Linked DNA regions of Homo sapiens: region 1 is linked to region 2. A link means that fine-mapping ties the variant in region 2 to the expression of a gene that starts in the linked region. Tissue or cell type: fibroblasts. Region 2 holds a variant in brackets; the other region holds the start of a gene. All regions are shown on one strand. Distances are between the middles of the regions. Region 1 holds the start of PLS3-AS1 (PLS3 antisense RNA 1). Region 2 overlaps PLS3-AS1 (PLS3 antisense RNA 1).

Evidence for each region. PIP is the estimated chance that this variant, and not a neighbour inherited with it, causes the effect.
Region 1: PLS3-AS1 starts here. The variant in region 2 is fine-mapped to the expression of PLS3-AS1 in fibroblasts (GTEx, PIP above 0.99).

What each region holds. Positions count from the first base shown.
Region 1 is chrX:115,555,145-115,571,399 of GRCh38, reverse strand. It overlaps PLS3-AS1 (PLS3 antisense RNA 1), which reads left to right and starts at 8,669. Exons shown (of 3, transcript NR_110384.1): 1 at 8,669-8,774; 2 at 8,870-8,996. PLS3 (plastin 3) reads right to left here and starts at 10,226. Exons shown (of 16, transcript NM_005032.7): 1 at 10,140-10,226. RefSeq lists enhancers at 4,742-5,306, 8,677-9,452.
Region 2 is chrX:115,513,391-115,529,645 of GRCh38, reverse strand. PLS3-AS1 (PLS3 antisense RNA 1) reads left to right here. Exons shown (of 3, transcript NR_110384.1): 3 at 9,935-11,457. Among named protein-coding and RNA genes, the nearest start is that of PLS3, 40 kb to the left of the region's middle. The variant T/C (reference allele first, on the strand shown) is at 9,154.

The DNA.
Region 1 (16,255 bases), 42 kb before region 2:
TACATAGGCATGGGCCAACACGCCTGGCTAATTTTTGTATATTTAGTAGAGACAGAGTTTTGCTATGTTGGCCAGGCTGGTTTCGAACTCCTGAGCTGAAGTGATTTGCCCGCCTTGGCCTCCCAAAGTGTTGGGATTACACGCGTAAACCACTGTGACGGGTCTTGGCTAGTTCTCCACATATCCTCACAAAAGAATAAATTAAATGGCAGGGTTCAGTGGCTCACGCCTGTAATCCCAACACTTTGGGAGGCCGAGGTGGGTGGTCATGAGGTTAGGAGATCAAGACCATCCTGGCTAACACAGTGAAACCCCGTCTCTACTAAAAATACAAAAAATTAGCAGGGCATGGTGGTGGGCACCTGTAGTCCCTGCTACTCGGGAGGCTGAGGCAGGAGAATCGCATGAACCCGGAGGCGGAGGTTGCAGTGAGCTGAGATCGCGCCACTGCACTCCAGCCTGGACGACACAGTGAGACTCCGTTTCAAAAAAAAAAAAAAAAAAAGAATAAATTAAACGATAAACAGGTTTCTGAGCTAAGCGAAGAAGCTTCTTCAACCTGAAACATGGCTAGAATCCTTCACATTCACAATGAAAAACAATAAAAGGAGTGTTTTTCCAATACCATTAAATAAAACACAAAAAACCCCACTAATTTCTAAAATCTTGCCAGCCTGGGCAACATGGGGAAATCCCATCTCTACTAAAAAACAAACTACAAAAAAAAGTTAGCCAGGCATGGTAGTACACGCCTGTAATCCCAGCTACTCGGGAGGCTGAGGCACGGAGATCGCTTGAGCCCCGGGAAGTCAAGGTTGCAGTGAGCTGAGATCGCACAGTTGCACTCCAGCCTGGGCGACAAAGCAAGACTCTGTCCAAAAAAAAAAAAAAAAAAAGGAAGGTAGGAAGGTACTCAAATTAGAGAAAAAGAGGTAGATATAGATGCCTGACAAAAATCATCTAAGGCAACATTAATCAACCTGTAAATGAAAATACTTATTGAGCACCTACCATATGCTAGTTGCTTTATAAGTGTTCTCATATAATAATTATGAGAACAAAGTGAAAAGTGAGTGTATTATCTTCATTTTATTCATGGGGTAACTGAGGTTCAGAGAGTTAAGAAACCTCCTCAATGCCACAGAGATATAAAATGGGAGAGCTGGCCCAGGCGCGGTGGCTCATGCCTGTAATCCCAGCACTTTGGGAGGCCAACGCAGGTGGATCACGAGGTCAAGAGTTCAAGACCAGCCTGGCCAAGACGGTGAAACCCCATCTCTACTAAAAATACAAAAATTAGCCGGGCACAGTGGCAGGAGCCTATAATCCCAGCTACTCACAAGGCTGAGGCAGGAGAATCGCTTGAACCTGGGGGATGGAGGTTGCAGTGAGCCGAGATTGTGCCACTGTACTCCAGCCTGGGCGACAAGGTGAGGCTCTGTCTCTAAACAAATAAATAAATAATAAAATGCGAGAGCTATTGGAACCCATACTTTATGCTAAAATCCATTCTGACTGTGCAACATAGCATGTAAATGATGCCCCTGAAAAGAAAAGAAAGGTAGTGAGAATGTGTTGTTGGGTGAAAGGAACCTTCCAAGTCACTTCTGGGTCATAATAGAATTCCCAGACCAATAAAGTCTTTGGTGAGTGAGGCTAGTGAACTGGAGGAAAGAGAAAAACACCATGGAAGGGTCTGTGAAATGGCATGGGTTAAGTTTCAGGAGGGATATGTAATGTACAATGAGCCATTTAAATACACAAAATATTTGTAAATTCAAGTGCTTGTAATTTAAGCAATCGCCATATACTGAAACCAGGCACAAATTAAGTGACAGCATCAGAATTTTTACTATTATTGGACCTATGTTTAGTTATATTATTTAAGCAACCTGAATGAAATGTAAAACTCTGAGTTTAACTGTAGTTTATTGAGTGATATCAAAGTACTTTAAGAAACTAATAGCCTTGAGATAAAAGGGCATATCAGCAAATAGTCATTTAGCCAACACCAGGATTAAATGTTTCTTTAGGATACTGAATGTTCATAGGCACAAATAAGCTTTGTATACTTGAACTGAGTTTTATAATAATATTAAACATAAAGGCTTCTTAAAAACAAACGTGTCTCCCTTCCCCCATTAACAGTTCCGTTTCAAAAAACAGAACTTCCTATGATTGTACACAGCACAGAATCCTACCTCATCCTGCTCTGCACCTGCTAACTAGATCAGAGAAAACCAAAATACTTCCAAGACATATACTTTACCTAAACAAGTTCCAGTTTAGAGTCACATATGATACAATACACTATATAAAGAATGGCCTTTTCTTTTTTCTTCTTCTTTTTTTTTTTTTTTTTTTGAAACGGAGTCGTGCTCTGTTGCCCGGGCTGGAGTGCAGTGGTGCAATCTTGGCTCACTGCAACCTTCACCTCCTGGGTTCAAGCGATTCTCCTGCCTTAGCCTCCCAAGTAGCTGGGATTACAGGCGTGCGCCACCATGCTCAGCTAGTTTTTTTGTATTTTTAGTAGAGACGGAGTTTTGCCATGTTGGCCAGGCTGGTCTTGAACTCCTGACCTCAAGTGATCTGCCTGCCTTGGCCTTCCAAAGTATTGGGATTACAGGCCTGAGCCACCATGCCCAGCCTTCTTTTTTTAAATGCCACTGAAATCAAGGCTATCTTTTTGTTTAAGCCAATGTTTAAATTTCAGGGACTATCAAAGGAATTCATCTTTAAAACATTCTTGGTGACTTCTAAAAAATGATAGAGTGCAAAATGATGTTCGATCAAGAATGCTTACTGAAGCATTATCTGTAAGATATGGAAACAAATGTTCAACAACTTGGAATTAGTGAAATAAATTATGAAACAGCCATTATATAAAATATACTGCAGTGATTTTAAACATTTTTAAAAATATTTGATCACTTGGAAACATGTTTATAATGTAATAAATGAAAAGAATGGGATATAGTGTTATTCCAATTTTTAAAAATTTCTCTTCCTACATATAAAATAAACATAAAAATATGAGCATTTAAAATTATAGTTACCTTGAATTTTTCTAATCCAAAGCAAAGTGATTGAAAACATCTTTAAAGTACACACTACACAAGACACTTTCCCAGTAGATTAATTCATACATGTTGAATAGTATAGCAATAGGATGTGCTCTAGGGACAATTTCGTATCATTTTCACCTCTGAGCAAACTCTTTGCACCCTATAATGGTGATTCTTCCTGATCTGAAACACAAGCCCCAAAATGTTAAAATGAACAACAAGAAATGGCAAAAATGGGAACATTCAAGCAAGTTAAGAAATATAGAAAAAAAGCTTGAAAATTACATTCATCTATGAATGAAAGCGTTATTTTCAGTGTCAACAGCAGAATGTCAATCTGAGTGCAACACGATGTAATTAGAGCTTATAATGTGGAACACAATAATATGAATATTCAAAACTATTATACGGCCCTAACAAATTTTATTTTACAGAAAGTAAAAACTTATATTATATATCACGTAAAACTTTATATAATATACATATGCACACATAAGTGTATATATACTCGTGTGTGTATGAATATCACAACTCAAGGGAATCAGACTTGTATTTTCAATGAACTGGACAGAGTATGAATGGGCGACAGAGTGAGAACCTGACTCAAAAAAAAAAAAAAAAAAAAGAAGAAGAAAAGAAAAGAAAATCCAAGTTAATAGCTTTGAAGGTGTTTATTTTTCAACTTAACTTCCCACATTTTCTGTTTTTTTTTGTTTGTTTGTTTGTTTTTCTGTTTTTCTTTTGAGATGGGGTCTCACTCGGTAGCCCAGGCTTGGAGTGCAATGGCGCAATCTCGGCTCACTGTAACCTCCGCCTCCCAGGCTCAAGCAATCCTCCCACCTCAGCCTCTTGGGTAGCTGGGACTACAAGCCCGTGCCACCGTGCTTGGCTAAGTTTTTGTATTTTAGTAGAGACGGGGTTTCACCATGTTGGCTAGGCTGGTCTCCTGGCCTGAAGTGATCCACCCACCTCGGCCTCCCAAAGTGTTGGGATGACAGATGTGAGCCACCGTGCCAGGCCATTTTTTGTGTTATTCATGGCATGCTACTTAAATGTATAGATTATCTCTTCCACTATGCAGTTTCCCAGACCTGCGTGTTGTCCTCCTTTAGACTGCAATTATGAGGAGGAAAAACTTGATTTTTTATGAGGTTTTTTACACGAAACCTCCCATTATGGGCAATCACAAAACTAAAAATGAGGTATGGTAAGCCAATGGACTCTGTAACAATTACCACTGAAGACCAAAATTCTACTCAGTAGTTAGTTAAAAAGGGGAAAAACACCACCCAATTAATGGCTTTAACGGGCTACCTTGCACAATATTTGAGGTAAGAAATAGAAGAAAGTATCACATGGGCTGGGCGCGGTGGCTCATGCCTGTAATCCCAGCACTCTGGGAGGCCAAGGCGGGCGGATCACAAGGTCAGGAATTCTAGACCAGCCTGACCAACATGGTGAAACCCCATTTCTACTAAAAATACAAAAATTAGCCAGGCGTGGTGGTACGCGCCTGTAATCCCAGCTACTCAGGAGGCTGAGGCACGAGAATCACTTGAACCCGGAGGCAGAGGTTGCAGTGGGCTGAGATCACGCCATTGCATTCCAGCCTGGGCGACAGAGCGAGACTCCATCTCAAAACAAAACAAAACAAAACGGGCCGGGCGCGGTGGCTCACGCCTGTAATCCCAGCACTTTGGGAGGCCGAGGCGGGCGGATCACGAGGTCAGGAGATCGAGACCACGGTGAAACCCCGTCTCTACTAAAAATACAAAAAAACTAGCTGGGCACAGTGGCGGGCGCCTGTAGTCCCAGCTACTCGGGAGGCTGAGGCAGGAGAATGGCCTGAACCCGGGAGGAGGAGCTTGCAGTGAGCCGAGATCACGGCCGCTGCACCACTCCAGCCTGGGCGACAAAGCAAGACTCCGTCTTTAAAACAAAACAAAACAGAACAAAACAAAAGAAGAAGAAGAAAGTATCACATGTAGGTTTTTATTCTATTGTTATCAACCTAGTCTCTTATTTTTCATTATAATATGTCTGGCTTTATTTTTCCTTTGCTTGTAAAAATTGGATGGGTGCAGAACTTTTACAGACAAAGAAAAATGTGGCAAGACTTACGTGATGAGAACCCTGCCATTTCTGTAAACTCTTGTTAAAGCTTTAGTGTTTCTATGATACACTGCTGCAGTACTTTGAATTTATATAGCACCTGTCTGCTTAAAAGCCAAGGCTTCACGTTTCTCACTTATCCTTTTACCATGCCTGTGAAATATGTAGATTGGAATCACATGGCTTAAAAATAAAGTGAAACCCAGATATGACCACAGAAAATTTCAATGAGTTACTTAAGATCATCTATCTGTCCAGACTGCAAAGGACTAAAAGACCCTAAATTCTATGCTCAATGCTTTTCCAATAAACAACACTACCTCCTTATTATCAAATACGTTTCTAAACTTTTAAGAAAATGTAAGGTTTCTCATATTATAAAATCAGTAGGCTTAATGCACCAAAAATCCCTGTCAAGGAATTAAATAAATGGCACCTCTTTATTTTAAAGAACTAACATTAGTCATGGAATAACCCACTGGTGATCACTTTCCTGAATAGTCATCAATTTGCCAACAAAGTATTTAGCTTGGATCAATGCAATTGCATCAAAGTTTGAAAAGTCAACTGATAAGTGAAATAAGCCAGATTATGAATATTTGAAAAAATAAAACCCAGCAAACCAAAAAGCTTGAGCAATCCTCTCTTTTTATAAACAAAAGCATGAATGGTGTCTGGCACATGTATGTACTCAATTAGTTATTAATATAATAATTTTAAATGACTTTCCGAAGGTCAAATTATGAGTCAATGGCAGAGCACTATCTAGAATCTAATTCCTCTGAGGGCAAGTTCAATGATTTACTTAAGATAATCTATCTGTCCAGACTGCAAAGGACTAAAAGACCCATGCTAAAATAATTAGTATTTTCATTTTTGTATACTAACAATACTTCTTCATCCCTAAAACAGTTTATACTCACTAATATTTATCTTCCAAGTGTCAAGACTAAGGCAAAATTTGGTATTATTAAATTTATCGTGAATCTTCTGAAATTGTCTCACCTCCGTAACTAAAATAAATTGGCCCAAGTATGATCAGATCTTCTAAGACTGACATTTCACGATTAGACTGTTTCCATAACTTTAACCAAAGCGCTCTCATAACTAAAATCAGCTAGTCATGACCACTGGTATATAAAAATCTTCCAACATTGTAATGTATCCAAAAAGCTTTGAAACCTCCAACACACTGAATATACATTATATGGTATATCACTGTCTAAAATAATACAGACTCAAAACATGACCCAGCTGACTTCTTCTAAATGAGTTGTATTATTTTCACAGATCAAAAATTTTGCCTTCTGGATCACTCTTCACCAAAAGAAAAATTGCCATATGACCAAAGACAACATGATTCTAAAAACAGATACCCCATTGTTGTCATGTATTGAGAGATATTCATTTTCAAATTTTATTTTATACCAGCTACTTTCATAATCTGTACCAAACATCAAAAAAGAAACAGTTCAGCTTATACATTCCACATAGATTATGCTAGATCAAACACAACAGCAAACTCATGAATTTATCATATGTGCTAAGAACACTGTCAGTACATTTCATGAAAATCCAAGTAGAAATAATGCCTAAAACAGAATATGGGATAATGGCAAATGGACTTTCTTCTTGTACCCTCTCAGTGTCACCAAAAAGAACCACTTTGGTGCTCAAGCACCATGGCCAAGCTGCCCTTTTATTTTCAGTAACAGAATTCTGTTCTCCTGGGAGAAAAATCTCATTGGGTTTCTGATAGTGCCCTAGATACTGACATTCTGCCAGTATAAACAGTCACAGTCAAAGTCTAATGTGCGTGTAACCACTTGTGGAAGAGGCTTAATCTCACCCAAATTATTACTCACTAGTTATAATTAATCCTTCTACCCAAAATGCCATAAGCCTAGTCATTTTTATCAATTGAATCTAAATGGTTACATCAGACTAGAGACTTTGGACTTCAATGTTGATCGTCTGTATTAAGTCAAGGCAAAGTGTTATTTATTTATTAATAGCTCCCCACCTCAGGTAAAGGGGTTGCTATCTGCTAGATCTAACAGTAAAAATCAAGAATTTGACTCCCAGCCCCCTAATTTCAATAAAAATTTGGGCTCATTAGATCATACCACCAAAAAAAGTCAGCAATATTGGGGGTGGTGTTCAATGAGTAGGCATCCCAAGACAATGAAAAGCTGTGGACTAGAGCCTAGCGATGATTCTGTTTAGACATGATTTCACAATACTTAAAAAAGAACTTATCCCCCTACCACTGTAACCTAGTTGAGTGGTAATAACTTCCTTTTTTTGAGGTTAAACATTTATTATTTCGATCTAAAATTATATTATCACCTCACTTCCACTAGAGGGGTCTATCTACCAGTGTAGTTAACTCTAGTAACTCAGGTGCACCTTAAATCCATTTCCAGCTCATCTGTGCCACAAGGCTAGCCTTGGGGTCAGAACAATGTGCTTTAAGGTTGTTCTAGTTTTCAGGCTCAGAAACGGATGAACAGCAAGAAACTGGAGTGCTCCGGTCATTCAGAGGCTGCTGCAGGAGACAAAGGGTTTTTGGCAAAAGAATACAAAGTCAGAATCTCTTAAATATCTTCTGCCCTAGTTGTTTTCAAGACTGAATATGCATCAACCAGGTCCGTTTTTTCTTTTTTTTTCAGATAAGCAAAGCTTTTAAACTCCTGACCTCAGAGGCTCCTCTGCCTCTCTTCTATACTCTGTAATATATAATCTGAATAGCCAAATTGCCACGTTTTCCCAGAAGCAACCTTAACTTGGGCCACTTGGGCGGGTATAGGTCAATATGGGAAAGTTGTTTCAGTGTCCTCTCATTATTCTACCAAACCACTGACAGGCAAAAACCCAACCAACTCGATGTATCAAATTTACTATCCACTGTTTTTGTGCATGATTTCTAATCCAGTTAATTGAAAACCACAAATAACTGGTGGTTAATTTTAGTCAAGAGGTTATTTACTACCTTTAAGTAGTTGCCTAAAATAGGGAACAGTTCAATTAGAATATAGGCCAGACCAAGGAAGATGAACAGAGCCTTACTTTTTAACACTATCTTGTGGGATTTAGCTTCAAATCTAGTATTCAGGGACAAAATGAGGCATGAGTAATAGGATGACTTCCCTAGAAAATAATTAGTAAGATGTTTTTTAAATTTAGAAAAACCATGAGATTGAAGAAGAGAGGAGATACATGTCCCAGCTCACATATATTTCAATCCCTTATTTTAAAAACAGCTCCTGTTTTTGTTTTGGATAAAAGCTGAGCACCAAATTCCCTTTCTGGTCCCCTCATCCAAAATCCTAGTAGACTTCCTTGATTAGAAGCTAGTTCACACTCCTCCCCACCTTTTTTTTTTTCAAACGTAGAGGTGGTTTTTGGAATATGGGCCTCAACCATTACATTCCAGCTTTAAAGTAAAAAGACGTCATGTGACCATCAGAGACTTGGGGCACGTGATTCCAACTGGTATGTGTGGGGCTCCAGCCACTTAGTTGGAATTCACCATGAACTGCATCTCGAGGATCAAGTTTAGGCTCCCCAGTCCATTGTGACATCCAGCAAAGTGGAGTAAGTGCTTGCCCCTCAATGGTTTTTACTTTTCCCTACATTTTCTACCTACTGTTAGCCAGGCTCCCTTCCCTCCTCCCAATCCCTCTTAACAGGCCGGGCGCCCCCAGCATCCCGTCTGTCTGACGCTAAATGGCGAGGCTCTCCAACCCACTTAGCTCCAAGCTCAACCTTCTGCAAAAGTTCAACCTTCTGCACCACTGGGGATATCGTGCAGCTCAGGTGAGAGGCAAGGAGCATCGCATAAGGCTAGAGTCAGATGCCATTAACCCCCACTCCACCTCCCGGGCTGGGATCATCTTACGTCCCGGAGCCCGGCGGTCGGAACCGCCAGCACACTGGAGCAGCGACGGCGGCAGCAACTTTGGGACTGGCGAGAAGCCAGGGCGGGGGTGGTCGGCGTCCCCGGGCCTCTCATTACAGCGCTTAAGTACTGCGGGTGGAGAAAAGTAAACACAGGCAAGTGCAGCTGTGCGGGGAAAGGGCGGGGGGGTAGACTATTACCTCCCTCCCGTCGCCCCTTTGCCTCTCCCTCTCCAAGAGTCGGGAGAGGTCCGGGACTGCCGCCGCCCCGACCGCGCGCCCGGGGCCGCAAAGTCAAAGGAGCTGAAAAAAGGACAGGGGGTGTGGGGCCAGGGGAGAACGGAAAGGTACTGTCCTACTAGCCCAGAGATGTTCTCCTACTGAAAGGAAAAAAAGTGCTTACTCATAGGGAGACTAGGTGCGTTCGCGACGCCCTCGCTAAGGACAAGGGAGGGAAGCAGGCAGAAGGCAGGCAACCCAAACCTCGTGCCTTCCCTCGGCCACGGCCCCCCCTCTCCAGAGCCCCAGGGTCGGCTTAAGCCAGCCAGGTCACCCGAGGCGGGCGTGTGGGGGCTGGAGGAGTAGCAGGCTGCTGGCTCCGGGATTTCCTGAGTCCGGGCGGGAGGGAAGAGGGGATGGCAGTAGCTGGAGAAGGACGACAGAGGGAAGTTGTGCGCTCCCTTTCCACTTCGGGGCCGCAGCCGCGGAGGGGAATCAGGGCAAGGGCTGGCGTCTAGGACTCCAGCCCAAGACTGGCAACAAGTTAAGAGCAACTAGTAAGAAAACACCACTTAATACAGTGAAGTGCAGAAAACGTGTCTGCGGCGGATGCTAGTAGGGAAACTCCCCGTCACTCACACCCATTTCGGTTGCGACCGATCGCCCGGGCGCCCGAGGGCTCCAACTGAAATTTCTCCGACCTCCCTCTCCCCCAACCCCCGCCCCACGGTGCGCCGCACGTTCCTGCTGAGCTTAACCGAGATGCTCTCCCCGGGACCCACTCCTGCCCACGCCCAGGAAACCCGCTCCCCTAGTGCCCGCCGGCGCCTACAAAGCACTTACGTAAAGTCGCAGAGTCCTGGGTCTGGCCCGACTGCCGCCGACCAACCCACTCAGACAACTTCTGCACCTCGGAATCTTTGCAGCTGTGGCTCTAAAGCCAGCGCTCCCTCCCCTCCTGCCAGCCCCCTCCGCCCCTCGGCCGCCGCCATTGGCTCGGGTGGTGCTAGCAGTCGGCCTGGGAACCAGGAAGGGGATTGGGCCACGAGCCTGTCACATCAACTGGGTGGGGATCCAGGAAAATAGGCACGGGGATGGGCACCCAGGAGGGATAGGGACTGCAACTCTGCTGCAGGGAGAGGAGAATGGTCCCCAGCGCCTGAGTCTCCCCTTCCTACTTGGGCTAAGAGGAAGTTAGAAGTCCAACGTGCCTGGCTCGGAGTACACATTCACACAATCTTGTGGGATTAATAAAAAGATGAAAAAGTTGGGAACAAGAATTTGAATGCCACCTATATAAGTCTATGGGGGAGGGGTACAGTTTCTCCCAGAATCGTGAGAAGAATAACGGCATGTTGGGGAACATTCCTAATTACATCTGCAACAATCAGTCCAGGTGCCAAAGGGTGCAGAGGGAAACATCAGCAATCATTCCTTTCCTTAAGAAGTCAAGGGAGAAGAATATGGGCAGGGCAGGGCCCTCAAGCCTTTGGCCTCATGCCAAGTAAATTGTTAGCCCACATCACCTGTCTGGTATGTTTGTCCATGCGGAGAGGGGTTGAGAGGAGGTGGTTGGAAGTACATTGGTTCCACTCTTTTGACCGGAAATGGGTATCAATTCTCATCAGTCTCCTTTCACCAGAGAAAATTTGGAGACATGTTACTACTCCCCAGACTGCCATTTCTTCTCCTTCTCTGCCCAGGAGATGGCTTCCACGTCATAGCTGACCTCTTTCATTAATACACGTGGAGGTTATCTGCATTCCAAACCTATGGTTCATCGTATATCCAAAATCAACTCAGAGAGCCAGAGTTTGAGGGATTTTGCAGGGTCAGGTCAAGAGACTGACTTGTGGGATAGCTGTAGAAGAAAAAGTCTAAGCCCTTTCCTGTTCCAGTCGTAACCATTTTGTTGAGGAAATGTGTGCTTGGAAAGTTCTGTCAACATTTAAAATTAGTTCAATTAAGTCGCATTTTACATGTACCAGGAAAAAATGCTGAGAGGCTTTAAAATGGAATGTTCTTGAAAAGGAACCCCTATTTCATCTGCCATTATGAATTTCCTTAGAGAAATTAATCCGTAGTGAGTGCCAAGGCTTCTTAAAAGGGAAGAACTTGGGGAGTTCATATATTGCCTAAAGGCTAGACTAGCAGAGGACTTGGCACGAGGAAAAAGCCTTGTTAAATATTAATTAATGATTAACCAACTGGAAGAACTTATGAAAGGCACAGGAAGGTGAAAAAGAAATGGGAGGGCAATCATGCTTTCACAAACATTGAATTTCTGTTATGGGAGATTTTCTACTGGTTCAGGTTTGGGCCAGCACAAAAATACTGATTTCAACATGTTGGCGTTGGATTGAACATGGAGCCAGTGCATTGCCACACACATTTACAGTAAGCTCCCAAATGAGATTTCTAGCATTCAGTAATTGGCCAAAGGTTTGGTGTGACTTCTGGAATTCTTTACAAAAAATTTTTAGATACAGGAAATAGGCTTTTTCAGTTTTCTACCTTTTATGGTGTCTGTCGGTCACCGCTGAAGAGCTTCCACCTGCTCTTAAACTTAAAATTACAGACTGAGCAATAGCATGAAGGGACTCTGTAAGCTAAATTTTCCAGTGCAGATATATTTGTCTCAATTACGTTGTATTCAATTTTAGTTTATTTTTCAAATTCTAGAATTTAAAGTAAAAATATTAAGAATCCTACGTATATGCTATTTACAGTTCCTGTTTTTAATTCAAAAAAGCTTACATTGGTCCGAGTAGGGTAGCTCACGCCTGTAATCCAGCACTTTGGGAGGCTGTGCAGTGGGAGGATTGCATGAGGCCAGGAGTTCAAGACCAGCCTGGACAACATAGCAAGACCTCATCTCTACAAAAAAAATTAATAAAATTTTTTAAAAGCTTAATAGAATCTATACTTTGATAAAAGTCTTCATTCACCACTATCACTGAGGATGTCAGAATTCAGTCAAGAAATGTCATTTTAATTGAAATGCAATAGTCCATAGTTTCAAAGCTGCAGTGTACCTAGCTGATGGCATTAGTTCTCATTGCCTCAGTAACTTTCCAACAGATAAAACACACCCTAAACACAGAAGCACCTATTTGGATGCTAGCTGAGATTCCTGTTTAACAAGCTCCACTATATAATCCAGGTAGAACTCCATTTTAATGAATACTATTAAGATACCCAGCCAGTTTGATGTAACTAAGCTACCTTTGTGTTGCCCAGAATCTAAAGGATCTTTTCAAATTTAGCATTTTGCTGGAAGAAAGGATCCTCAGGCTCAAAGCTCTTAAACAGCATTTCTTTATAATTTTTCATGCCATCAATTTACCTCATAGAGGATCATTCACGAAGTAACCCAAAGTTGATTGTTTTCTTATCTGTATCAAAAAGCCTGCACAGATGTTTGTCAGGGTTCCCTCCACCTGCTTATAGGCTTTAATTTATTTTGACAGTGACTTGCATAGTGCCTGACACATAGGAGTTCAGTAAATGTTTGCTGAACCAATGGTTATTTTATGTCTATTCTTGTTAAACAACAGCAACAAAAAGCTATTAATATATATAGGATTCTCACAGACCTTGTGAATCAGTAACCTAAGAGTTTTTACCTTTCCTTCCATTTCCAATTTTCGATCCTAATGCCTTTGTAATAAATCACTTAAAGTCAATATCACAAAATTTTGAAAACCATTTATTCTTCCTGTCCTCCGCTGATATCATAAGAAGGCGCCAATATCTCTCTTAGGTTTTTTGTCTGTCCAAACTACTTTTCTTTCCTCCTTTTGATACGCACATCCCCCTTTTTCTTGCTCTTTTTCCTATTGTTCTGCCCAACACTCTCCCCAGTCTAGCTCACAATGTATTATGTGTACATAGTCTAAAATTTTCCCTGAAATTTTCCTAGAGTAAGTTGTCAGTTTCCTCTTCTATCCATTTTTAATTCTTTATTCTTAACATGTCATTGCTGGTTTGAACTTTTTTTTTTTTCCTTGAGACAGAGTTTCACTGTTGTCACCTCAGCTGTAGTGCAACGGCACAGTCTCAGCTCATTGCAACCTCTGCCTCCCGGGTTCAAGCGATTCTCCTGCCTCAGCCTCCCAAGTAGCTGGTATTATAGGCACCTGCCACCACACCCGGCCGATTTTTGTTTTTTCAGTAGAGATGGGGTTTCACCATGTTGGCCAGGCTCCTCTCGAACTCCTGACCTCAGGTGATCCACCTGCCTTGGCCTCCCAAAGTGCTGGGATTACAGAGGTGAGCCACCGTGCCTGACCACTGGCTTGAACTTTTTATCCATTTTTTATTTTATTTTATTTTATTTTATTTTATTTTTTCTTCTTTTTCCTCACCCCGTCTGAGATAATTTTTATCATTTTTTTTAAAACCTCCTTTCTGTAGTCTATTAAAAAATGATTTTGCTGCATAAACTTTATATAAGCCAGGAATAACTTAAAGAATCTTGATCAGTTCAATACTAAATCATTTTTCTAACACACCTAATTGTTTTCTCAGTCTCTAAATGTAAAATTGTGTACTAATCTGTTTTAATTAATTGTATTTTATTTTATCAGATTATTTTCAAGGAATTATCCTTTTTTAAATCATCTTTTTAATTCATGGATAATTCTATTCCATGTTGTGATATTTTAGGTTCTTGGATTGATCCTAATCCCTCTTTTTATTCAGTGTGCTGTGAGATGACATTTTTATTAAAATTAAGTATGATTTTAAAGGTTTCTCTCATACTTAAAATATTTGGCATAGAGGAAATCTTGGAAGACCTGGACAATTATTAATTTTTTTTTGATCCATAGGATACAGATTTGAACAGTTATTACCACTGTTTATTAGTGGAGTGTTTTTATGTTTCCAACTCAAAATGTACACATGTATAGGACATGAATATTAATAGTGAATAGGCAATTGTCAAATATTTTTCAAACCTAAAGATTATTATGAATGTGAATGCCTGCTAATGCAGGCCAACTATCTTACACGCACATTCACATAAAGAAATTACTCTGACATGTCCAAGCTTATTTCAGATTTTCACTTGTTAAAAAAAAAATTATCAGTATCTGAGAATAAGAAAATTAAAAAATAAAAAACAAAAAATTAATTGAAGTCTCTTTAATAGGATTAGGACATATTTAATCAGTATGGACTTTATAATATGTAGATTTAACAAAGATCACTATCATCACTGGAAATGCTCAAAATTAAAGTGTCACCCTCCCCTCTCCCGACTTTCTGGGTGTTAAATATCTAATTAATCAATCAGATAACTATTATAAGCAACATAGAAAAAGTATGGTCTCAAAACACAACGAATTAATAGTCTAATATTAATTCAAGATCAAAGTCCACATAACTGTAATAATGAGAAAACAATTCAAGATAGAATATATAAGAAGCACCGTAGGTAGGCTGAAAAGAATGAGAATAATAGGGCTAAAGCAGTTGTAGAAGGCATCCTTTGTGCAATGGAACTTGAGCTAGGCTTGACAAAGATGGGTAAGACTTGATATAGGCAAGTAGAAATGAAAACCATTTTCATTCCTAGGAAGTGATAAAAGAAAAACTTCAGACAAATTAAATTTAACATAGTTTAATTGAGCAATGAACGATGGGGCAGCCACCCCAAACCAGACTAGGTGCAGAGAGACTCTGGTGCTGCCACATGTTCATAGAGAATTTATGGACAGAAAAAGAAAAGTGACATACAGAAAATGGAAGTGGGGTACAGCAATAGCTGGATTGGTTACACCTTGGCATTTGCTTTATTTGAACTCAATTTGAACAATTGGCTGCTTTTATTGGCCAAAACTCAGTAATTTTTACAAGTGAGGGTTACAGTGTGTTTACACATCTGTTTAGGTTACAGTTCACTATGTATGGAAATACTGTTTTTTTTTTTTGGCAGGGTCTCGCTCTGTCACCCAGGTTGGAGTGCAGTGGCACGATCATGGCTCACTGAAGCCTCAATTTCCCAGGCTCAGGTGATTCTCACACCGCAAGTCTCCCAAGCAGCTGGGACTACAGGCTCGTGCCACCACACCCAACTAATTTTTTTTTGTGGTAGAGACGCGGTTTTGCCATGTTGTCCAGGCTGGACTTGAACGCCTGGGCTCAAGTGATCCACCTGCCTGGGCCTCCCAAACTACTGGGATTAGAGGCCTGAGCCACCACACCCAACCAGGCTAAACTTAATTTAACATAAGAAAGCAAAATGGGAGCGCTTTAGGTAAGTTTCTGAGTTTGGGCTTTCTTTCCAGGCTTCTACTTCCTTATCTGCAAAAGAAAAACTGAGGATTTGCCTACCACAAAGGTGCAGTGATAACATCAATGGGAAGGAAGATTGCTTGGGATCTCACTAACGTAATCTTTTTAAAAGAGAAAATATATTTTTTTAACACTTACTTTAGTGATTAAAAAGACTTGTGGGCTGGGCTCATGCCTGTAATCCCAGCACTTTCGGAAGCCGAGGTGGGTAGATCACTTGAGCCCAGGAATTTGAGACCAGCCTGGGCAACATCGCAAAACCCAGTCTCTACAAAAAATACAAAAATTAGCTGGACATGGTCGTGGTACATGCCTGTAGTTCCAGCTACTTGGGAGGCTGAAGTTGGAGGATCACTTGAGGCTGGGAGGTTGAGGCTGCAGTGAGCTATGATATCACCACTGAACTCCAGCCCGGAAAGCAGAGTAAGACCCTGTTGAAAGAAGGAAAGAAAAGAAGGAAGGAAGGAAAGGAGGAAGGAAGGAAGAAAGAAAGGGAGGGAGGGAGGGAGGGAGGGAGGGAGGGAAAGAGGGAAGCAAAAGGAAGAAAGGAAAGAAAGAAAAGAAAAGAGAGAGGGGAACATCACACACCGGGGCCTGTCCTGGGGTTGGGGGAGGAGGGAGGGATAGCATTAGGAGATATACCTAACGTAAATGTAGAG
Region 2 (16,255 bases):
GAATAAACGACACATGGTGGTACAAATGAAATAGAATATGTCTTTACAGAAGAGAGAGATTTCTCCAGGCTGAAACCTTATGTAATTAATTTCCTTCAGTGACTGACCAAATAATATGTCGGTTTCATGAAGCAAGCCTCAGCTACCAGATGTTAAAATATTTCAACTCTACAGCAGCAGCTAGACAACATCCAAAAAAAATTTAAACTCAACATAAGGAAGAAATGAAATTCAATTGCTTCAACAATGAGCATAGTGTAATTGGATGAGGGCCGCCTGTTGGCATCAAAAGGTCCTGACAATTGCAGCGATCCATTTGTAAAGCCTTCTTTCTTTTCCTCAGGTTGTGGAAATAAAACAGTCCTCAAGAGTAAAGTGGAGAATTTCCAATTTTGTCCTTTAATAAATGAGTTGTTGGCATTGTATAGAATGAAAATAATGATACGTCTTTTTCCACCAAAGCATAATGACCCTTGTGGCCTTTCTCTCCACTCTGTACCCTGTACTTTAGATGGTAAGCAGCAATTTGAGTGGCAACATTGAAAAAGATGTTAACCCTCTGTTGCTCAGCAAGTACTAAGCAGATACAGAGCCTACATTGTGCTCACTGCGCCAGGACTAATAGCAAAGTGGTGTTCCTGAATTTTTCCCCTTCCTCCAAGCTCACTGAAACATAAAGTCTGGCATTAATAAATAAATACAACATTCTGATTGAGAAGGTAGTGCATCCACGGATAACTGGAAAACTTACAATCCTAGAACTTTGTCTTACATTGATGTTGACATCGTATAGGAACTTAGAATCTAATTTCTGTAAATAAATTTTGCAAAACGTTTACGAAAATCATGGAACAGTTAGGTTTCAAAAATTTTTTTTACAGTCAGGGAAGAAAGAGTTTCCCCCGCCCCCACCCCTGCACACAGCGGTGTAAAAATGCTTTGTTTTTTAAAGGACGTTAAATTATAAAACCCAGCTCTGAATTTTAAATGCCACAGACGTGAGGGTATAACACCTTATTAGGTTGCCAGATTTAGCAAATAAAATTACAGTATGCCCAGTTAAATCTGAATTTGAGATAAACAACAAATAATTTTTTTTAGTATAAGTATGCCTCATGCCATATCTAGCAACCTTAACCTTAGAAAACCATGCTTGATTATGTAATATTCCAGCTGACTGGTTAATTTTTAGGAGGCAGGTTTGCTTTTTATTCCCTGGGTTTTCATCTTTTCCCATTCCTGCATGTCTCCTCAGCATATGAGATTTTTTTGAATGAATGGAAAGATCTTCTGTGAAGAAGACCATTCAGTTCATAAATGAATTATTTTAAAGCCCTGAACCCCTCTGCAAAAAAAAAAAAAGTGAACAAAAAGCCCCTTTTTGGTCCTCTTTTTGTGCTGTTACAATTGCTCTTCACTTGTTGATCTGGGTTTAATCATTCAGATAAGTGCTTCAACTTTAAGTGCCTCAATTTTCTGCTGTTCTGAATATGAAGGCTCAGTATAAATGGGTGGGGGAGGGAGGGAGTCTATGGCACTGAGTCACATCAATTTGAAAAATAAGTATGTAGACCTCATGTGGACTTTTCCTGTAATTAAAGACTCTCACTTCCCAAAATATATAAATCAGATGCTTTACCTGTTCTGATCATTTCAATGAACATTCAATTCATGCGTCCATCAGAGGGTTCACAAATGCACGAAAAGTTCATAATTCAGGCTGGGCATCATGGCTCATGCCTGTAATCCCAGCACTTTGGGAGGCTGAGGTGGGAGGATCGCTTGAGACCAGGAATTCAAGACTGGCCTGGGCAACAGAGTGAGACCTCGTTTCAACAACAAAAAAAATACATCTTCTTCACACTTTTTTTTTCCAGACATGGTCTTGCTCTGTTGCCCAGGCTGGAGTGCAGTGGCATGATCATAGCTTACTGCAGCCTCAAATTCCTGGGCTCAAGTGATCCTCCCACCTCAGCCTCCAGCATAGCTGAGACTACAGACACATGCCACCACACCCAGGTATGCAACCAAAACTTGTAGGAAATATTACTGATTTTTAGTATTTGCTTTATTGTGTCATAAGAAAACCTTTTTACAAAACTTGAGACATCTTCCTATTAAGGTTATAATTCCATTATGGCAGACATATGTGATGTTGAAATCACTTTTAAAATCATTATATTTTAAAAATTATTGCTTTTGAAACATTTCTTGTACTTTCTTCAACTTTTTTATTAAAAATATGATTTTTACACCCTCTTCTTTTGAAGTCATTTGCAGAAGGACATGCAACAATAAGTGCCTGAACTGTCTCTAGAAATGCATAAGAACTCTATTTAGGCCGGGTGCGGTGGCTCACACCTATAATCCCAGGACTTTGTGAGGCTAAAGCAGGAGGATTGCTTGAGGCCAGGAGTTCAAGACAAGCCTAGGCAATATATTAAGACTTTGTTTCTACAAAAATGAAATAAAATAAAAGGCATGATGATGCACGCCTGTGGTGTCAGCTACTTGGGAGGCAAGGTGGGAGGCTAAGGTGGGAGGATCACTTGAGCCCAGCAGGTCAAGGTTGTGGTGAGCAGTGATTGCACCATTGCCCTTCACCTTGGGCAACAGAGGAAGACCCTGTCTCATAAAAAGAACTCTATTTAGGCTCTTTCATATATAACATCTGCCCTCTCAGGAATCTTTTTAATGGAAAAACATTGATGTCCTTCTGTTTATGATGATTATTTCATCTTTTGTTTAACCTTCAAAAACCTACAAAAGTTTTAAAAGATGTCATGTCTAGTATCTCAGGATACTAGAAATTGAAAGAAACTTTCTCAATTTGGCCAAAGTTGTCCATGAAATCTTTGTAGCCTATATCACATTAATGGTTTAAAAAAGTGAATGCTTTTCGATAGAAAAGAGGACATGAAATGTTACCAACTCATAGAAATGATAAATACTCAAGGTGATGGATACCTCACGTACCCTGACTTGATCATTACACATTTTATGCATGTAAGAAGCACTCACAATTTCCCCATAAATATGTCAAATATTATGTATCAATAAAGGGGAAAAAAGTGAAAGGGTTGCTCTTAAGATCAGGAACAAGATGAGGAGGTTTGCTCTCACCAATTCTATTCGACATCATACTAGAAGTTCTACTCAGTGTAATAAGGCAAGAAATAAAAGGCATCCAGACTGGAAGGAAAGCAGTTAAGGCTCTCCTTATTCACACATAACATGATCTTCTACAGAGAAGAATCTACAAAAAAATCTACCAGATATAATAAGTCTGTCGTCCAGTCTGGAGTGCAGTGGTGCTATCTTGGCTTACTGCAACCTCTGCCTCCTGGGTTCAAGCGACTCTCTTGTCTCAGCCTCCTGAGTAACTGGGACTACAGGCGTACCCCACCACACCCAGCTAATTTTTGTATTTTTAGTAGAGACGGAGTTTCACCATGTTGTCCAGGCTGGTCTTGAACTCCTGGCTTCAAGTGATCCACCCACCTCGGCCTCTGAAAGTGCTGGGATTCCAGGCATGAGCCACCACGCCCAGCCACTTCTGTTATCATTTTAAAAGCAAGAAAGTTCCATTAAACAGAAATCTTTATATACTTTTTTTTTTTCAGCCTTGCTGAGAATGAACTCCCGTATGGTTGGTATGCATGGAGATGTACTGCCTGATTAATTTATCTTATACTTTTGGGCGCAACCAATTAAAACTTGTGGCAGTCTCTTATTTTTTCTTTCTTTCTTTCTTTTTTTTTTTTTTTTTTTTTTTTGATAAAGACAGGGTGTTGCCATGTTGCCCAGGCTGAACTCGAACTCCTGGGCTCAAGTGATTCTCCTACATCAGCCTCCCAAAGTGCTGGGATTACAGGCATGAACCATCACGCCCGGCCTGAGTCAGTCTCTTGAAGTCAGAAGTACACTAGACCGTAAAACTGGAGACCTAGTTGTGCTCCAGCTGTGCCAACATTTAGTTTCACGATATGCAGCAAGCCACTTCACCTCTCTCGGCTTGAGTTTCCTCATTTAGTAAAGTAGGTGGTTAACAGAGGATCACTCCTGTTCCGCTTCTAAGACTTATTATTTAAGATATATAGAGAGTTTAACATCAATTTTATTATCACTTGAGACACCACTTCAGTGCTGCAACTTGAGCATTGAAGAGCAGAGCAAAACACTTCATAAATGCAGGTAAGAGTGGATATTTTGGTCTGACTCAGATAATTGCCTTAGTTATAAATTGGCATTGTAGATCTATCTACAATGTATGTTAATAATATCAAAAAATAATAAAATAAAATCCCCAGAATTTTCTGCTTTCCCAAATAAGCTCATTAAGTGTAAAGAAAGAACTAGTTTTTAAGATCTTCTGATTTAGACATTCAAAGTATTGAAAGGGTAGATTCCAGATTGATAACCATAAGGGTCTTTAAAGTGGCATTTTTAGGCAGGGCGTGGTGGCTCATGCCTGTAATCCCAGCATGTTGGGAGGCCAAGGCGGGTGGATCTCCTAAACTCGGGAGTTTGAGACCAGCCTGGGCAGCATGGAGAAACCTCGTTTCTGCCAAAAATACAAAAACAACAACAGCAACAACAAAAAAAAGCCAGGCATGGTTGCATGCCTGTGGTCCCAGCTACTCAAGAGGCTGAGGTGGAAGGATCGCTTGAGCTGGGGAGGCAGAGGTTACAGTGAGTTGAGATTGCACCACTGCACTCCAGCCTGGGTGACAGAGTGAGATTCCATCTCAATAAATAAATAAATAAAGTAGCATTTTAAAAAAGTATCTGCAGTTTTATTCTTATGCTAAACATCTAGGCCCTGTTTTGAAGGCACATACACCACACTTTTATACTCAATCAAGCAGATAGCCAAGTTGTCAGTGTGCATGTCTTACCAATAATGTTATATTGATTTCTCTGTAATTGTTTCTTTAGTGCATTGAGGTGTTATAGTATAAAATCATTAATCTTGAACTTTGAGTACCTTTATATTTTTTGAAAATAACAAAAAGTGATGTAGTATGCCCTGTTCCATATAGAATATGAACCTTAGAATAGATGCTGTGCTACACAGTTATCATTCCTTTTTCCCCATTCTCTCTATCAGTGTGATCTATTCACCTACTCATATCCAGAAATAAAATTTGTTTTGTTTTGTTTTGTTTTCTTTTCTTTTCTTTTTTCTGAGACAGAGTCTCCCTCTCTCACCCAGACTGGGGTGCAGTGGCATGATCTTGGCTCACTACAACCTCCACCTCCCGGGTTCAAGTGATTCTTGTACCTCAGCCTCCTGAGTAGCTGAGACCACAGGCACCCACCACCAAGCCTGGATAATTTTTGTATTTTCAGTAGAGATGGGGTTTTACCGTGTTGGCCAGGCTGGTCTTGAACTCCTGACCTCAGGTGATCCGCCTGCCTCAGCCTCCCAAAGTGCTGGGATTACAGATGTGAGCCACCATGCCCAGCCTAAAATTTGTTGATATTTAGTTTGTTACAGAAGAAGGAGGATTGAAATAAAAATAAAATATATTTATTATGTAATGACTGGTAACTGATTTTGTATTCATGTACAGATAGAATAACTCTACATTCTGAGAATTCAAAACCTTTTGGACAATTAAAATATTAAGAAACATGATCTATCTTGCTTCAATTGCTTGTTTTTAGCGAGTTTAAATATTTCACTAAACTTCATAGCTTTGAATGCATCAAGGTCTCTTCAGAGTTTTTCAGTGGGTAACAAACTTATGTGTGTGTGTGTGTGTGTGTGTGTGTGTGTGTGTGTGTGTGTTTCAAATTTGCCACTGCGGAAACTGTAAAAAAGAATATATATATATATATTCCCTGTTGCTCAAGCGATTGTCCCACCTCAGCCTCTTGAGTAGCTGGGACCACAGGCACGTGACCATGGCAGGCTATTTTTTTTTTTTTTGTATTTTTGGTAGAAATGGGACTTCTCCATGTTGCTCATTTTGTATTTTTGGTAGAAACGGGGTTTCTCCATGTTGCCCAGGTTGGTCTCAAACTCCTGAGCTTAGGAGATCCACCCGCCTTGTCCTCCCAACATGCTGGGATTACAGGCATGAGCCACCACGCCCTGCCTAAAAATGCCACTTTAAAGACCCTTATGGTTATCAATCTGGAATCTACCCTTTCAATACTTTGAATGTCTAAATCAGAAGATCTTAAAAACCAGTTCTTTACACTTAATGAATTTATTTGAGAAAGCAGAAAATTCTGGGGATTTTATTTTATTATTTTTTGATATTATTAACATACATAATGTTATACAAAGAATATACATATATTTTTTACAGTTTCTACAGTGGCAAATTTGAAGTATGGTAAATGTTGCTTCTGCATTCCAATTTGATAATGAGCCTTAACCTTGTCCATTTCATTCCATTAAAAGAGGAAAAAAAGTAGTTACTGGCAAAGCAAATGGCTCATAAAGTAATCTGAGTGATGGAAAAAGAACAGTTCTCAGCATGGAATGAAAATATCTTTCACCAAGGATGAAGTAGAATTATAGAAGTACTCCATCTGTAGCTACTTTTTACATTTAATAGTCTTAAATAAAATTCCCCTTGAGTATCTCTGACCATTGAGGTCTGAGAGCCTGAAACATGATGAAATTTACAATCTGGGCAGTCATAAAGAAAGTCCTACATTTTTTTCAGGCTTTGAGGGGAATGGGCATTCTATTATGCCTATTCCGTTGGTCACCTTGGGTCTTATAAATTTCTTTATAAATTTGCCATACAAACTTTTATTTATTTTTATTTTATTTAATTAAAATGTTTTTCTTTTTTCATAGTGATGGGGTTTCCACCGTGTTGCCTAGGCTGGTCTTGAACTCCTAGGCTCAATGAATCCTCCCATCTCAACGTCCCAAAGTGCTGGGATTATAGACGTGAGTCACTGTGTCTGGCTGCAAACTTTTGGATATTTTTCTTAAAATAAAAACTTTTCTAACATATACTTGTTTTGTGATGTCAAGATGGTCCAGGGGATCTTAACAAATAATAAAGAAGCCTTTCATGATACAAGGATCAAGACTTAGGTTCTAATATCAGTTTTATTGCACAATTATTGTGTAGTATTGGAAAAGTCCAGTCATCTTTCTAATAATTTATTATAAGGCTTAAGTGCAAATATGCTTAAAAGGTTCTTTTTAATCATAAAGCATTATGCAAATGTGACATATTTTCTCCAAACAGCCACCTAAATGAAAGTGGTGGGTTTTCAATTATCTGAGGCATAAACCATGAATCTATGTACTTTGACTACACATATGAGATGAAGATTAGCCTTGTGGTTGCTTATTAGATTGAAATGCTTTTGCATACATATTCATATAGAATACTTACAAATCAAATGTCAACTTTGTTATTTATATAGTGTTGACAATGATGATAATAGGTAACACTAATTAAGCACTCCGTATACATCATGCCTGGTGCTAAGCAGTTTCCATATGTTACCTAACTCAACAGTTGAAACGACCCTGTATTATAGAGAGGAAAGAGATAAAGCCAGGATTATAGATTGAAGCAATCCAACTCCTCTCTTAGCCATTATATTTTTATGCCTTCCAATACTCTTAAAAATCTGCTGTCTGTCAACTTTTTATTTCTGGCAGAGCATTCTTCAGAATAAATGCAAGACAAATCCTCCAGAGAGGCTTCTGGAAACTACAGACTCCAGATAGTCTCATGATACATTGAGTAATCTGGTTAAATGGAGAGTAAACATTAGGATTATGAAAACACAGAAGCACAGAACTTAATGGAGAGAACCTGCTTGATTTCCATAACAGAAAATCATGCTATACTAGAGTTTGGGATAAGTAGAAAGTAGATACAAAAGTGGGAGCCTCAGACAAAAGAACTTTAAATTTAAAAAAAAAAAACCACCTTTGAAAGTTTTTAAACCAAAAAGTTTTGATTACAGTCCACATAGCATTGCAGGACATGTAATGTAAGAGCTTAGAGATGAGTGGGAGGAGCTGATGGGGAATTTTGCAGGCAATATGACCACTCTGTAATTGTAATTGACAACTTGTCAATTACCCAAGGTCTTCCATACCCCTTGTGCCATCTGGTAATCACAGTATTCTGGTGAGGAAAATAGAACAGATTCTATTATGCCATTTTAGAGATATTTTAACTGTTAATGGCAGAATCTTCTTAAAATTAGCCTTGAGATTGGTCTAAATTATCATTTTCACAAATTATCTTTGAAGAGAAAGTACATGAGTACATTGGTCCCAACCCACATTTATAACCCCAGCATCCATCATGACTTTATTCACATTATATTCTAGCTAGACAGAATTACTCCCCAGGCAGTTATACATCTTTACCCATTGCTTTTTTTTTTTTTTTTTTTTGAGACAGGGTCTCTTTCTGTTGCCCAGGCTGGAGTGCAATGGCACAACCATAGCTCACCATAACATCAAATTTCTTTGTCTCAAGCGATCCTCCTGCCTCAGCCTACTAAATATGTCGGACTACAGGCAAGTGCCACCATGCCCAGCTAGTTTTAGAGGGGGTTTTATTATGTTGTCCAGGCTTGTCTTGAACTCCTGGGCTCAAGAAATCCCCCTGCATCAGACTCCCAAAGTGCTGGGATTACAGGTGTGAGCCATTGCGCCTGGCCTCTACTCTTTTTTTTTTCCTACCATACAAGCCCATCCCAACAACTTATCTCTATTCATATTGGCTTTTCAAATCACATCTATATTTCCACCCCTAAAATCTCCTTACTTCTTGATTTCTTCAAGCATATGTTAAAATGACAAGTTCTGAGTTGTCATCCCTGGAAAGGGTGCCAAGGGTCCTTTATAGACTCTCTCCTGAAGACAGCTGCCCAAGTATTGTTTCGGTCAAAATAATCAGGAAAATGTTGAACATCATTAAGAAAAATTGGAGGAAAAACCAGTAAGCAGTCATTCTATTTTTTTTTTTTTTTTTTGTAAATCCTTGAGGTGTCTGCATCCGGGCTCTTTTTTGTAGTTCTGGTCTATGTACAAGACAGGAATAATAGAGTTGGAGAAGACCCTGAGACGAGCAACTGAAACGGTGAAGGGGACGGAAAGCAAGGCGGGATATAAGCTATATATAAAATGATAACTCTTCATATTAAAAC[T/C]GGCTAAAGGTAAGCGTCATCAGAGAGCTGTGTGGCTGCCAGATTTTGTTACTGGTATCTTGCCAGAGCATATGTCCTAAACAGTTTTATCTCCAGTGGCCTCATCCTTGGGCTGTAGTTTGGCTATTCTATTTTCTCTAACTCAATTTCTTGAATTTCTGACAATTTCTTCAGTCCCACACATCCCCATTTACCAGGAGCTTCTCATTACAGAGTGGTGAATGTCAGGATGCCCTTACCTACAGGTAAGGGGCAGGTGAACAGTCTTATTTATGTTCATACGGGTTCTAGTTTGATTCTCCCCCCAGGCCAATTGTCATACTCTTTAGGCTACCTGGGCCTCAACTAAGTTGTGTACATCAGAATCACCTGGGGAACTATAGATCTATGAATCATTTATCACTTAATTTCTCTATTGTGGAAAATCAGGATGTCATGTATGTATTTCTTTAATACAGAACATAACTAAACAAACAACAAAAATGAATCATTAAATAGAAAACTGCTTTTGGTCTAATGTTTTATACACACACACACGCACACACACATATGTGTGTGTGTGTGCGTGTGTGTGTGTGTGTGTGTGTATATATATATATATATATATATTTGGAGATTAGGTCTCACTCTGTCGCCCAGGCTGCAGTGCAGTGGCACAATCATGACTCATTGCAGCTTCAACTTCCCGGGTTCAGGTGATTTTCCCACCACAGCCTCCGGGGTAGCTGGGATGACAGGCATGCACCACAATGACCGAGTAATTTTTTATATTCTTTTGTAGAGATGGGGTTTCGTCATGTTGCCCAGGCTGATGTAGAACTCCTGGCCTCAAGCAATCCACCTGCTTTGGCCTCCCAAAGTGCTGGGATTACAGACGTGAGCCACCATGCCCTGCTGGTTTAACGTTATATTGAAGTTTCTCCAACTGAAGGGCATGTACTGTTGAGCATGCTCAGAAGCCAAGGTTCAAGCCATTCTTCAACTATAGATGCTTCAACTCATCTCTCTTTCTTCGGAATATTCTCTCCCTTATCAATTTCACCAATTATACCAAGTAACCCCCTGCTTATTCCCCTAGAACAGACAGAGCTGATACTAGTCTGTGCCTTATGTGATTTAGAAAAAGACTCTTGGAATGCAGCCCCAGACCATGATGTACAGAGCATGAGTTGGGTATTGCCCCATTTTATTCTCTAATTCAGGTGCCCTTGTGCAGTGAATAACATGGCAGCTGTGAGACTAGTGATGCTAAACAGGTTTAATTTTTGGTGCAAATTCTAATGAATTAATAATAGCTGTTTTAAAAAAACACACAGTGCTAAGAAAGACTCTGAGGCTGTTTTCAGGCTCAGTAGATAAATTGTACTGTAAGCTGGGATGATTTGCCTTGGTTGGGAGAATGGCACCAGGTGTGACAAGAATTTGCTATCTAAGGACTAGAGGCATCTCACCCGTCCTGAAGAGGTAGGAAGCCTGGGGTAGGCAGATGTTGAGGTAGAATGTGGGCCCAGACAAGTTTTATAATTTATAGAACACAACTTTAAAATGCCCTTGTAATACAAGGCAACAATCCTACTTTTCCAGGTCTCTAACAAAAAGCATCTAGCTGAGCTAGAGTGTTTTCATGAGGCATCTGCTACACAAAACAATGTCTTGCTTAATAAATAACACCCGTTTCTACTTGGTGTCATTTTACTGTTTAATCAAAACTTATTTTCACCACTCTTAACCACAATCTAAAGAAGGATGCTTCAATCTCTTCCTGATTTAGCCTTAAACTTGGTCATGTGTACCATTCGACTAGGATTGCCAGAGTCAGCCACCCTCCCAACAAAGGATGCTCAGTTAAATATTGCACAGAACACACTTATACTAAAAATTGTTTGTTGTTTATCTGAAATTCAAATTTAATGGGGCATAATGTATTTTACTTGGCAATCCTACCTGTGATGGACATATATATTTCCCCCCAGCTTTATTAAGGTATAATTGACAAATAAAAGTGTAAATATTTATGATATAAATGGAAATATAAACAGATGCTCCTCGACTTTTGATGGGGTTACATCCTGATAAACCTGTCATAAGTTAAAAATATTGTGAGTTGAAAATTCATGTAATACACCTAACTTACTGAATATCCTAGCTTGGCCTAGCCAACCTTAAATGTGCCCAGAACACTTACATCAGCATATTTGGGCTGATGTAACACAAACCCTATTTTATCATAAACTGTTTAATATCTCATGTAATTTATTGAATACTGTATTGAAAATGAAAGATAAAATGGTTGTATGGGTACTCAAAGTACAGTTTCTATTGTCTGTGTATCTCTTTTGCACCATCGTACAGTTGAAAAATCCTGTGTCAAACAATCATAAGTCAGGGACCATCTGTATTGTTGAAATAGCATTTCAAGCTGGATTCCTTTTTAGAAAAAAAATGATCTAAAAGGGATATGCCATAAAAATCTACAAATGAAGTGTAAGAGGTGATGTACACATGAGCAATTTCACTATATTCAAGAATACTAAAAATTGGTTGTGATTCCCTTGACGTTTAAGGAAGTGGTTTTGAATTTTAAAATAGCAATGCTTTATGCAGTAATAAATATATACAATTTATTACCACTGGGAAGAGATCCAGCCAGAAAAATTTTGAAAGACACATTTAGAAAGTTTTAGATATATTCATGTACAATCATGCAAATCAAATAAAAATGATATAGCACCTACTGTATTTTAGGCACTCATGATCCAGAGATGAAGACATGGTCCCGCTGCTCAGGGAGTCTACTAGCAACACACATATAATTCAAAATAACAATATAGTCTTGGGAGAAAAATAGAAGTAAATAATAAAGTACAGTCATAGTAGGAAAAAATGCATGGTTGATTATCTCTACTGGGGGAAAACGGGAGCAAGGGAAAACTCTAATAGATCACTCTTGAACTAGAATTTTGTTGTTTCTTTTAATTCGTATGTATGTATGTATGTATGTATGTATGTACAGGGTCTCACTCTGTTGCCTAGGCTGGAGTTCAGTGACACAATCATGGCTCACTGCAGACTCAAACTCCTGGGCTTAAGTGATCCTCCTGCCTCAGCCCCCTAAGTAACTGGGATGACAGGCACCACTATGCCCAGCTAATTTTTTTTATTTTTTTAGTAGATATGGGGGTCTCACTTTGTTGCTCATTCTTGTCAACTCCTGGCTTTAAGTAATCCTCCAACAGGCCAGGCATGGTGGCTCACACCTGTAATCCCAGCACTTTGGGAAGCCTTGGCGGTTGAGTCACCTGAGGTCAGGAGTTCGAGACTAGCCTGGCCACCATGGTGAAATCCGTCTCTACCAAAAATACAAAAATTAGCCGGTGTGGTGGTGCACGCCTGTAATCCCAGCTACTCGGGAGGCTGAGGCTCAAGAATTGCTTGAACCCAGGAGGCAGAGGTTGCAGTGAGCCAAGATTCCATCACTGGACTCCAGCCTGGGTGATAGAGTGAGACTCAGTCTCAAAAAAAAAAAAAAAGTTATTCTCCCACCTAGGCCTCCCAAATTGCTGAGGTTACAAGCATGAGCCACTGTACTGGCCTGTTGTTTCTTTTTAAATCCATTTTATTTGTAGTATAGTTTACAAACAATAAGATTTACCCATTTACCCATTTAAAGTGCAATTTGATGAGTTTTACCTTTTTTAGGGTTATTGAGGTATGATTTGCATAAAGTAAACTTTAGTCTTTTAAAATGTATGGGTCAAAGAATTTTAACGAACTTATTCAGTTGTATAACCATCATCATAATAAAGATACAGAGTATTTCTACTATCAAAAAAATTCCTTCATGCCCTTTTGTGTTAGTTTTCTGTTACTGGAATAATAAGTTACCACAAACTTAGTGGTTGAAAGCAGCACCCATTTTACTGTAGCACACTCCCGTATGTCAGAAGTTAGGACAGTATGGTGGGGCTCTCTGCTAAGGATCTCGCAAAACTGAAATCAAAGTGTTGCATAGGCTGAGTTCCTTTCTGGAGGCTCTGAGTAAAATCTGCTTAGAAGCTCGTTCAGGCTGTTGGCCAGATTCTGTTCCCTGCAGCTCTAGGACTGAGGTCCCCATTTTCTGGACACTTGGCCTTCTCCACCTTCAAGTCAGCAGTGAGTTGAATCCTTCTTGTACTTCAGACCTCTCTGACTTCTGCTTTTAAAAGGTCATGTGATTCCACTGGGCCCACCTGGATAATCCAGGATGATATTGCTATTTTAAGGTCAACTGATTAGTAACTTTAATTACATGTCCAAAGTCTATTTTGCCATGTAACATAATGTATTCATGGGCATAACAACAGTAGTAAAGGTCATAGGGTCAAAAATTCTGCATTTCACACACTTTGTATCAATGCCTCTATTCCAGCCTTTGGTAACATCCGATCTGATTTCTGTCCCTGTAGTTTCGTTTTTTCCGGAATGTCATATAAATAGAATCATATAGTCTTTAGCTTTTTTTTTTTTTTTTTTTTTTTTTGAGATAAGGTCTCACTCTGTCACCCAGGCTGGAGTACAGTGCATGATCATAGCTTGGCTCACCAGTCTCGACCTCCTGGGCTTCGGTGATCCTCCCACCTCTGCCTCCTGAGTAGCTGGAACTATAGGCATGCACCACCACACCCAGCTAATTTTTATATTTTTTGTAGAAACGGGGTTTTGTTATGCTGTCCAGGCTGGCCTTGAGCTCCTGGGCTCAAGCGATGGGCCTACCTCTGCCTCCCAAAGTGCTGGGATTACAGGCGTGAGGCACTGTGCCTGGCCATTATGTAGCTTTTTGAGTGACTTTTTTTTTTTTTTTCACTCAGCCTAAGGCTCTTGAGATCTATGTACAAAGTCACATGGATAAATAGTTCCTTTTTGTCACTAGGTAGTATTTCCTTGTATGAATGTACCACAGTTTCTTCAACCATCCACCTGCTGGTGAGAAGGTCCAGGCACAAATGCAGTCTGAGAATATAAGCAGTAGTCACAAATGCCTGATAAACTGATTTAAGGGGCTAGAGAGAGAACAGAAGCTAGGAAAAACCTCTGAGAGATCTAAAATAACAAGTAGGTTCACACAATTAGGGAATGACATTCTAGGAGATGGTCTCATGTACACCATTTTACTAATGAGAAAAATGAGGTTCCAAGAGCTTAACTAACTGGCCAAAATCACACAGGTGATCAATGTCTGAGGTGGAATGTAAATCTAAGTCCATCTGACAGTAAATATATCAGTGATTCCTATTTTTTTTTTTTTTTTGAGACGGAGTCTTGTTCTGTTGCCCAGGCTGGAGTGCAGGGGCGCCATCTCGGCTCACTGCAAACTCCACCTCCCAGGTTCAAGCGATTCTCCTGCCTCAGCCTCCCAAATAGCTGGGATTACAGGCGCCCACCACCATGCCAGGCTAGTTTTTGTATTTTTTTTTTTTTTTTTTAGTAGAGATGGGGTTTCGCCATTTTGGCCAGGTTGGTCTCAAACTCCTGACCTCAGGTCATCCGCTCGCCTTGGCCTCCCAAAGTGCTGGGATTACAAGTGTGAGCCATCGCGCCCGGCCCTAATTATATTTGATATGATAAAAGCTATGGGTCTTCTCCCCAGAAAAATAAACATGCAAATGCATACCAATCCTAGCTGAAGAATCATTTACATTTACATTTAACCCTAATCATTTACCTTTAACCCTAATCCCCTAGCGCCAAATATAACTATTCCTTGTGATAAAAGCACAGAATATTACCCCAGGTAGAGACAATTGAAGTGGGAAAACCTGGTTTCAAATTTTAACTGTGTCATTTACTGTCTGTATGATGTTGATCTCATTACTTTAACCAATTGAGCACCAGTTTCTTTACCAGCAAAACAAGTATAATAATGGCAGCTTTGCAAGATTGTTGTGAAGCACACAGTGGGTGCTCAGCAAATGCCTGACAAACTGAACTGTCCAGTGAACTTCAATTTCTTGTCCCTTTTCCTGTCTTCTGACCATCCTAGCAAAACAGAGAACCCCATCATGAAATTAAGTCATTTTTACTCTAAAAATCATTCACAACTGTCTGGGCCAATCAGGATGTTTGATAAGGCATAAACACCAAGAAGCCTCCTGGGAAATAAATTGTTTAAACTTAAGAGTGTCGTATAACTTGACTCAAAGGCAGTTGAGCCTGTGTAAGGAGCTTGGCTACATTATTAACCCACCAGAGTGCATGCCACAGGTATCATCTGGCCCAGCCCCCCTTGAATCCAAGCCTGAATCTTACAGCAAAGAATCACTAATAAAACAAGTGAAGATGAAAAGAACTTCATTCTAGCTGGGCGCGATGGCTCACGCCTGTAATCCCAGCACTTTGGGGGGCTGAGGTGAGCTGATCACGAGGTCAGGAGTTGGAGACCAGCCTGGCCAACATGGTGAAACCCCCGTCTCTACTAAAAATACAAAAATTAGCCGGGAGTGGTGGCACGCACCCGTAATCCCAGCTACTTAGGAGGCTGAGGCAGGAGAATGGCTTGAACCTGGGAGGCGGAGGTTGCCGTGAGCGAAGATCACCCCACTGCACTCCAGCCTGGGCAACAGAGCGAGGCTCCGTCTTAAAAAAAAAAAAAAAAAAAAAAAAAAAGAACTTCATTCTAACATTTCAGCAACGTCAGTGCCAACACCTTTGGCAGCACCTTAGGAGATTGATTGTACCACTGCTATTGTCACTGGTGGAGGGTGTCCAGGTTCTTGGGCTCTTGAACAAAGAATTGGACAAAACGCACAAAGCAAGGAAGGAAGGAATCATGGGATTTATTGAAAATGAAAGTACACTCCACAGTGTGGGAGTGGACCCCAGCATAGGGGCTCAAGGGCACTGTTACAGAGTTTTTTTGAGTTTAAATACCCTCTACTTGTTGTACACCCTATGTAAATGAAGAGGATGAAGTAAAGTTATCATTTACTATGGAGAGGACATTTTCTGTCATAGCTGAAGTGTGAATCAACCTTATGTTCCCTGCCTCCAGACCCTGCTTTCCTGCCTCACTATCTCCAGTATTGAAAGATAACACCAACAGAAAACCAAATACCACATGTTCTCA